Regions from separate parts of the Homo sapiens genome. Here region 2 is linked to region 1. A link means that fine-mapping ties the variant in region 1 to the expression of a gene that starts in the linked region. Tissue or cell type: sigmoid colon. Region 1 holds a variant in brackets; the other region holds the start of a gene. All regions are shown on one strand. Distances are from middle to middle.

The links. PIP is the estimated chance that this variant, and not a neighbour inherited with it, causes the effect.
Region 2: it holds the start of DNAH1, and the variant in region 1 is fine-mapped to the expression of DNAH1 in sigmoid colon (GTEx, PIP 0.94).

The regions. Positions count from the first base shown.
Region 1 is chr3:52,760,143-52,764,633 of GRCh38, reverse strand. It overlaps NEK4 (NIMA related kinase 4), which reads left to right. Exons shown (of 16, transcript NM_003157.6): 5 at 1,010-1,164; 6 at 3,698-3,839. Among named protein-coding and RNA genes, the nearest start is that of NEK4, 8.6 kb to the left of the region's middle. The variant G/A (reference allele first, on the strand shown) is at 1,973.
Region 2 is chr3:52,313,985-52,318,475 of GRCh38, reverse strand. It overlaps DNAH1 (dynein axonemal heavy chain 1), which reads right to left and starts at 2,157. Exons shown (of 78, transcript NM_015512.5): 1 at 1,931-2,157. RefSeq lists a silencer at 537-766 and enhancers at 705-1,643, 4,460-4,491.

The sequences.
Region 1 (4,491 bases):
TTTGAGACAGAGTCTCACTCTGTTGCCCAGACTGGAGTGCAGTGGTGCAATCTCAGCTCACTGCAACCTCTGCCTCTCGGGTTCACGCCATTCTCCTGCCTCGGCCTCCCAAGTAGCTGGGACTACAGGTGCCCGCCACCACGCCCGTCCACTTTTTTGTATTTTTAGTAGAGATGGGGTTTCACTGTGTTAGCCAGGATGGTCTCCATCTCCTGACCTCATGATCCACCCGCCTCGGCCTCCCAAGGTGCTGAGATTACAGGTGTGAGCCACTGCACCCGGCCCAAGTCTTGTATTTTTTAACCTGCTGCCTAGTTTCGTTTCTTTTCTTTCTTTTTTTTTTTTTTTGAGACAGAGTCTCGCTCTGTTGCCAGGCTGGAGTGCTGTGGCGTGATCTCGGCTCACCGCAACCTCCACCTCTCTGGTTCAAGCAATTCCCCTGCCTCAGCCTCCTGAGTAACTGGGATTACAGGTGCATGCCACCACGCCCAGCTAATTTTTTTGTATTTTTAGTAGAGACGGGGTTTCACCATGTTGGCCAGACTGGTCTCAAACTCCTGACCTCAGGCAATCCACCTGCCTCGGCCTCCCAAAGTGCTGGGATTACAGGCGTAAGCCACTGCGACTGGCCCTAGTTTTTATAAGAAGAATGCATGATAATTTATTCCACAAATCCCCTAAGGGACATTTATGTTTCCAATTGTTTACTACTGCAAGAACAGTACTGCATTGAACATCCCGATACATAAGTCTTTAGGAAACTCATACTCTTATTTCTGAATGAGAGTGTCATCAGATGGGACTGCTGGGTTGGAGGATATACTTTTATAATTTTACAACTTGTTATCTTACAACTGGGATACCAGTACACTTCCTGTAGACTAATATACTGATTGTTTTCTGCTTATGTGGACATATGACTATAAATAAATATTGGGAAACCTCTACCAGCTTTTACTTTGTTTCACAAGACCATTAGTCATAATTACAATATTATTTTTATTTGTAGCTGCCACCAATGCCAAGAGATTACAGCCCAGAGCTGGCAGAACTGATAAGAACAATGCTGAGCAAAAGGCCTGAAGAAAGGCCGTCTGTGAGGAGCATCCTGAGGCAGCCTTATATAAAGCGGCAAATCTCCTTCTTTTTGGAGGCCACAAAGATGTAAGATACTTCCCTTGCAAATAGCTGGGCTAAATAGATGGGGTGAAAGAGGGTGGCTTCTGTAATATTCATATGCAAGAATTAATGGTGAGTTTTCTTAAAAACAAGAAATAAAATGGCATGATTACATATGTAGAGGAGGCAAAATTCTACCCTCTTAGGGTTTCTTGGCTGAGCTTGAGAATTAAACTTATAATTTAACAGGAGAAAAGCATGTAGATTTCTTTAATACCTGAATAAGTTTTATGTGACACAGGAGCCCTCATAAGGAAATGAAGACCTAACTTCTACTAAAAATACAAAGAAGTGGCAAAACCTAAATGCTTTTTGCTTGATTGAACAAAGAGAGGCAATTGTGGAAAAGTAAACTAGGTGGAGAGGCTAAAGGAAGATAAGAATTATTTTAATAAGGTCTGTTTATAGAATTCTCTCAGTTTCAGCTTTCCATTCTTGATAATAAGAATGTTACTTTCCTTCTGGTACAGGGAGGACGTATTTCATATGGGAGTTTTATCTTCTGCTTTCTGGAAGAAAAAGGGAAGATCAGAGTGCCCTTCTTGCACTTACTTTTTTTTGTTTGTTTTTTTTTGAGATGGAGTCTTGCTGTGTCACCCAGGCTGGAGTGCAGTGGCATGATCTCAGCTCACTGCAACCTCCGCCTCCCGGGTTCAAGCAATTCTCCTGCCTCAGCCTCCCCAGTAGCTGGGATTACAGGCACCCGCCACCGTGCCCGGCTAATTTTTGTAGTTTTAGTAGAGACAGGGTTTCCCCATGTTGGCCAGGCTGGTCTTGAACTCCCGACCTCGTG[G/A]TCCGCCCACCTCGGCCTCCCAAAGCTTGCACTTACTTTTTAAAGAACCTTAGCCCAAAATAATCTTTATGCCAAAGTAGCATATTTTGGCGTGGCATATTCTCCCAGTCTTCAAATACATGTTGAAATTTGCTTAATTGCTAAAATCAGAAATTTGGAGAACCACTGTCACATTCCTCAGAGGGTTCTAAGACATATAGTGTAAATTTTTTTTTAAAGGACATATGCACTACTCTGGGCTCACTGCCTATGAGTTAGTCCTGTTCTCAAGGAGCAGCCAAATAATAATAAAAAAAAAGAGGGCATATGTTTTAGAAATCATATAATTAGAGATTATCTGAGAAACCTATACATCTTACTGTGTAAGATAGTAATATTTAAAAAGTAGTGCTCACATTTCTGAGAGCTTGCATAAAGTTCCCTCTTCATTCACATTAACTTCCCAAGAGAATTCCTTGCTTTGGCTTGCAGATCCTACCTTTACTAAACAGGTGTTCCAGGATCTAAGACTTAGGGCTGGACAAAACTATTACAATCTGTTTGGCTTCTCCTCTTGCCTTGTGGCATGTTAAATTTGGAAAGAGAGGAGGCAGTGCTAGAGATGCCTCAGGGAATAAAGAAGAACCATCTTTTTGTGTACATAATTTCCCACCAAGCAGACCTTTGGCCTTCCAGTGTACTGATCTCCATGCTCCTCTTGAATTCTCCAGAGGTTTAGCCCAGTTTTAGAAATGACATACTAAAATAGTTGGGGATGTTATTCCTGTATGCATTTATTCTATAAGCAGGACTAAGTGTACCAATCAGTTTTACTCTCAAAGTTAGCCAAGCAGTTGTGGTATTATTACAGACATGTAAAATTTGAAAATGAAAATTAACCTGATACTCCCGTATGTGAGGCAATCTCCCATAGAATTTTTATTTTGGAATAATTTTGTATAAACAGAAAAGTTGGAAAGATAGAGTGGAGAGTTCCTGTATACCCCTCATCTAGTTTCTTCTGTGATTACCAGATTACATACCCTAATGCATTTGTCAAAACTAAGAAACCAACATCGAAATATTACTATTGACTTGGCCATGCATGGTGGCTCACGCCTGTAATCCCAGCACTTTGGGAGGCCGAGGCTGGCAGATCACCTGAGGTCAGGAGTTTAAGACCAGCCTGGCCAACATGGCAAAACCCCGTCTCTACTAAAAAAAAAATACAAAAAAATTAGCCGGGCGTGGTGGCGTGCACCTGTAGTCCCAGCTACTCGGGAGGCTGAGGCACAAGAATCACTTGAACCTGGGCAGCGGAGGTTGCAGTGAGCTGAGATCACGCCACTACACTCTAGCCTGGATGACAGAGTGAAACTCTGTCTCAATTTTTTAAAAAAAGAAAGAAAAATATTACTATTGACTAAATTCCAGACTTTCTTTGGCTTTCACCAGTTTTTTTCTCTAATGTCTCTTTTCTGTTCCAGGATCCAATCCAGGATATAGTACATCTAATCAGGGGTCTGTGATTGTTTCTCACTTTGTTTATTTTTTATGACCTTGATTGTTTCAAAGACTACTGGTGAGGTGTTTTGTAGGATGCCCCTTAGATTTTTAGAAAACTATTCTCTATAAATGGTGCAGTTCTGTAAGGGAATTCATTGTATACACACACTCCCACATATACCTAAAAACCCTTAATCTTCAGTATATTGATAATAACTCTTTCTTTTCTTCTTTATAAAGAAAAACCTCCAAAAATAACATTAAAAATGGTGACTCTCAATCCAAGCCTTTTGCTACAGTGGTTTCTGGAGAGGCAGAATCAAATCATGAAGTAATCCACCCCCAACCACTCTCTTCTGAGGGCTCCCAGACATATATAATGGTACGTTTCTTTTTAAAGGGTATGTGTTTTAGAAACTGCACTTAGAAAAATGGGCCATCTAAGCAAATTATTTTGTGTGAAATGATTATGCTTTACTAGAGATTCTGTTGTACAATTAATTCCTTACTGTAAAGAAAGAATACTGGTTAAGGTGATTGATTTAGCTTTATCCAAATTGGGCTGTCAAATTGTTCACAAAGTCAGTGCTGTAATAACTTTAAGAATTTTTTAGGTGAAATTTATATAACAAAATTAACCATTTTAAAGTAAACAGTTAAGGCTGAGCGCGGTGGCTCATGCCTGCAATCCCAGCACTCTGGGAGGCCGAGGCTGGCAGATCACCTGAGGTCAGGAGTTCAAGACCAGCCTGGCCAACATGGTGAACCCTCATCTCTACTAAAAATACAAAAATTAGCTGGCTGTGGTGGCATGTACCTGTAGTCATAGCTACTCAGGAGGCTGAGGGAGGAGAATCGCTTGAACCTGGGAGGTGGAGGTTGCAGTGAGCCAAGACTGCACTACTGCACTCCAGCCTGGGTGACAGAATGAGACACTGTCTCAAAAATAAAAATAAAAATAAATAAAATAAAATAAATAAATAAAGTGATCAATTAAATGTGGCCAGTACATTCACAGTGTAGTGCAACCGTCA
Region 2 (4,491 bases), 450 kb after region 1:
CTCTGGTAGGGATCTGGAGAAGGATTGGGTAGCTGATGGGACTGCCACGTGCTCAGCATGGGGATGGGGCCCAAAAACTGGTCTGGCAAGTACAGGACTTCACTGCAAGGCTGTTTGAAGTGCACCTCCAGGCCGGGCGCAGTGGCTCACGCCTGTAATCCAAACACTTGGGCCCAGGCGGGCGGATCACCCGAGGTCAGGAGTTTAAGACCAGCTTGGTCAACAGGGTGAAACCCCGTCTCTACAAAAACACAAAAATTAGCCGGCATGATGGCGGGTGCGTATAATCCCAGCTATTCAGGAGGCTGAGGCTGGAGAATCGCTTGAACCCGGGAGGTGGAGGTTGCAGTGAGCCGAGATCGCGCCATTGCACTCCAGCCTGGGCGACAGAGCGAGACTCCGTCTCAAAAATAATAAAATAAAGTGCACCTCCCTTCTTTCCCCCTGGCCAAGGCTCAGCAACCAGACTCCTGGGAGACCCCATTCCCCACCCTCGTCCACTCGCCCTCCGCGCCTTTTCGAGGTCCCGCTGCCCGCGCTGGCCCCGCAACCCCTCCGCCTCACCGACGTACCGGTTCCACCGAGCAGTGCGGGGATGCATCAGCCCCGTCTCTAGGGAGGGACGCTAGGCCGTTGCTAAGGGGCGGGGCCATCCGGCACCGCAGGGCGGGAGCTTCCGTCCGCGAACCTCCCCAGCCTGAACCCTTACCTACCCACCAACTCCAGGTCTCGGTTACTTCCGCCCAGGACAGTGGGACTGGGATGTTCCAGCATATGCCCCGATCGGCAGGATTAGGGCCGACCAGGGAGCGTCACTCTTCTAGGCTCCATTACCCACCCATCTTCCCTCCTGTGCCCTTTTAGAGTAAGCAGCGAAACAGCTAAATGCAGCGTGAGAACTTTGATTAAATCCTGATTTAAATACATATACATATGTAAATAATTTGGGGAGGAATAATTGAAGAAATTTACGAACTGGAAGTTGGCATTTAAGCCACAGCTGCGGGACAGCTGGTCAGGGCACTGAGGAAAAGGTGGGTTCTGGTTCTCCTGGGGCTTGGCTCACAAAGCCACACCCACCCATTGCACGGTGACTCCACTCAGGCCGCCGCTTCCGCTGGGCAGCGGATGCGCCCGACACCCCTCGGCTCGGGCGCCCACCCTCTGATGCCCCTCATCTGCTCTCAGCACCTGGCATGGGTTCAGGTTTTGATCTTCCTGCCCTATTCTGAATATTGAATTATTGTTAATTTTCTTAGATGTGATAATGCTACTGTGGTTGTATCAGACTGTCCTTAGTTGACGTGGCCTGAAGTGTTTGAAGAAACACGTCAGAATGTCCGCTACAATTTCCTTTCAAATGGTTCAGCAAAAATTATACATATAGGTAAGCATAGCTAGATAAAAAGACAAAGAGGAGATAAAGCAAAAGTGCTGCAATATAACAATTAGGGAATCTGAAGGTCACAGATGTCCATGTACTAGTCTTCCAATTTTTTCTGTAAGGGAAAGAAGTGGTTTACAAACCAAAAGAACCAAAAGAAAAACATCACCCCATCTGTACCTGAGAACCCCTGCCCACAGCCTTCTCAAAACTGGCCCCATTTCACAGATGGGGAAACAGACTTGCTGAGACGGTTAGTACTAGGGGAGGTCATAGGCCCTGATGTTGAATTTTACTTGGCATTTTAGTCGTGCTGGCTTGGTGCCAGGCCTGTTGCTGGGCACTAAGTGTCTGGAACTGAACTGGACCCTATCCCCACCATAAAGTGTATTGAGTGGGAAAGATGGAGAGGCCAGGCCATGAGGAACCTAGAGGCAGGGTGTAATCTATGCCTGGAGACAGTGGTTCAGCCCTTGCACAGGCTTCTGCTTCCTCTGTCTAGAACCTGTCTCCATCCACTCCTGCATCTGGCGGACTCCTACTCACCCTTCAAGACCTGATGGTGGTGCAACCTTTCCTGAATCCAAACTGTGGTTTTATTTTTCTTGTTGGCATTCACACAGGTACTCAGTGATCACTGCAGAAGGAAGAAAGGACTGTGAGGGGAACTGGAGGCAAGGTGTCCACAGCTCTTAGAAGGGACAAGGACTCCATAGCCCTGTTTAGGGCAGTCTGGCTGCTCAATGGGTCTGCGTATAGGTTGGGTACCCCCCTTGGCCTGTAGAGAGGCACCTGCTTCCCTGCTTTTGCCTGGCACTTCCCACACTAGGTACAGCTGTCCAAAAAGCTGCAGCATCTATCCGGGTTGCCATGGCAACATCAGCCTATGGTGGGATGTCAGGGATGAGAGGGGCAGAATGCTAATCCTGGAAAGTTGCCAAGCAACACAGTGGGCTGGTGACATCACAGGGGCTGTGGCTGCTGGACAGATGGACAGGCCACAGCTGAAAGGGTCCACTCTCAGGAGGCCCAGCTCACAGAACCACTCACTGCTTACCATGTGATGGTCACTGCTGTTTCTCCCAACTGGAGAATGGACTTGAGGGGTGGGGGTCGGGGGTGCTGCTTTTACCAGCAGCCCTGCCAGCTCCACTTCGCCCCTCTTCAAGGGCGGGCTGTGGATATGACTGCCTCCCTCCTCCCTGGAAGGACACCGTGAGTCAGTCCCTGTTCTCCTGGGTCTCAGGGGCTACCCTCTAATGTGCTGTCTTCTCCCATGGCTGCGCAAGGGTTCAGGCTTTGGTCTTCCTGCCCTGTCCTGAAGGCCACCATACTTACCTTGCTCCCTGGGAAAGGAGCAGGGGGCTGAGCCATGACCCACTGGACTCCTGCCCCTCTTGTGATGGGAGGGCCATCTTTTGCCCTGAATAAGCTGGAAGAGAGGTCAGCCTTACCCTTGTTGAAATGGGAGGACTAGGTTTCTACAAGAGTTGGGGAGTCACTGCCCATCTCTTACTCAGATCCCCCTTGCTGAGGACTCTGGTGGCCTGGAAGCTGGGGGATTGGGGCAGATGGGCTGCTTAGGATGCCCTGGCCCAGGGCCATGCCTTTCCAGCATGGAGTCTGAGGTCATGGCAAGTCTGCACACCCCCTCCCCTGTGTCTCCTTGCTGGCTGAGATGGGAGCAATGCTTCACTGGCTGCAGAGATGAAAGCCCCTTGTGAATGGGCAGCAGAATGGGCCCTTCATGTGGCTGGCCAGCCAGAACGGAAGGTGACAGGCATCCAGACTGAGTGGCTGAGCTACCCGCTCCCCACCTGTCCCCAGCCTCCCTCTTGGGCCCCCAGGATCTTCCTCTGATTTTCTAGGCCTGGAGCTCTGAGCTATGCCACAAGAAAGTGAGTTGCAGGCATCGGGGGCGGGGGGTGTCAGAGAAGGGAATGGGTGAGGTCTACGATTCACTGCCTCCCCAGGCCTCCCCGACATAAGCCTCCCTGCCATTGCTCAGCTGCCCTCAGCAGTTCTGACCAGCATAATCATTTCTTTGATGAATAAAAATGGAGAAAATTTAATTCTCCTTTGATCCACATGATCACCTTGACAGACAAGACCTTGAAAGCCCAGAGCTCAAGCAAGGAGTAGAACAGAGTTTCTCCGGGGCTGGTGGACTGAAGACCACTGGCCCATGAACAGACAATCTTCATCCATCACAGCCCCCACCTAATCCCCTGCCCACCTTTACTCCTGTGCAGCCTCCCTGCCGGAGCCTCTTCCCTCTTTGTTTTTCTATGATCTTCCATGCCATCTTGGGCTACTTCTCAGGACACACTCCCTGAGTGCCTTGGCCAACAGAACACACACTCTCCTCAGGGCCCCAGAGGACCATGGTCAGTACCACTTGGTAGATGACTCACTCCCTACCATGTGATGGTCACTGCTGTTTCTCCCAACTGGAGGGTGGACTTGATGGATGGGGTCAGGGGGTGCTGGGGCAGAGGCACAGCTTTTCTCAGCAGCCCTGCCCATGCGTCAGTCCAGGAAAGACCCATAGAAATGACTGGAAGATAGAGCAACCCACATCGGGGCCATCACCTCAAAGATAGTGGCTGTTGACACCAGCCCAGTTGCACATGACCCCACATGATCCCACCCTCACCTCCTCTCCCCCAGCCTATTTTTCTCTGACCTCCATCTGAGGGTGCAGGATGCTGAGGCTCTGCGCTCCAGGAGCAGCGGCCCAAGGGGGGGATGCCTGTTGGTCCCCACCTTCCTGGGCCAAAGCGCCAGATGGCAGGCTCTGAGACAAAGACATCTTCCACAGGACATTTCCCAGGGGGGCTCCAGGAGCTGCACAGGAAACTGTTTATTATAATTAGGCTCTGAGCACCTCTGATTTTTCCTCAGTCCCAAGGAGTTTGGTGAGCGTCAGCTGGAGTAATATCTTGGCAGAGTGGGTGACTTCATCAACTTGGCCCTGTGACCCACCAAGTGCCCCCACTCCCACCTTCCAGGGAGCCTGGGTTTGCTGAGGCTTAGCTGAGCCCTCCCATCCACTCATCCCCCAAGGCTGGCCACTTTGGGGACCAGACTGCCAGCCTGACCTTTCA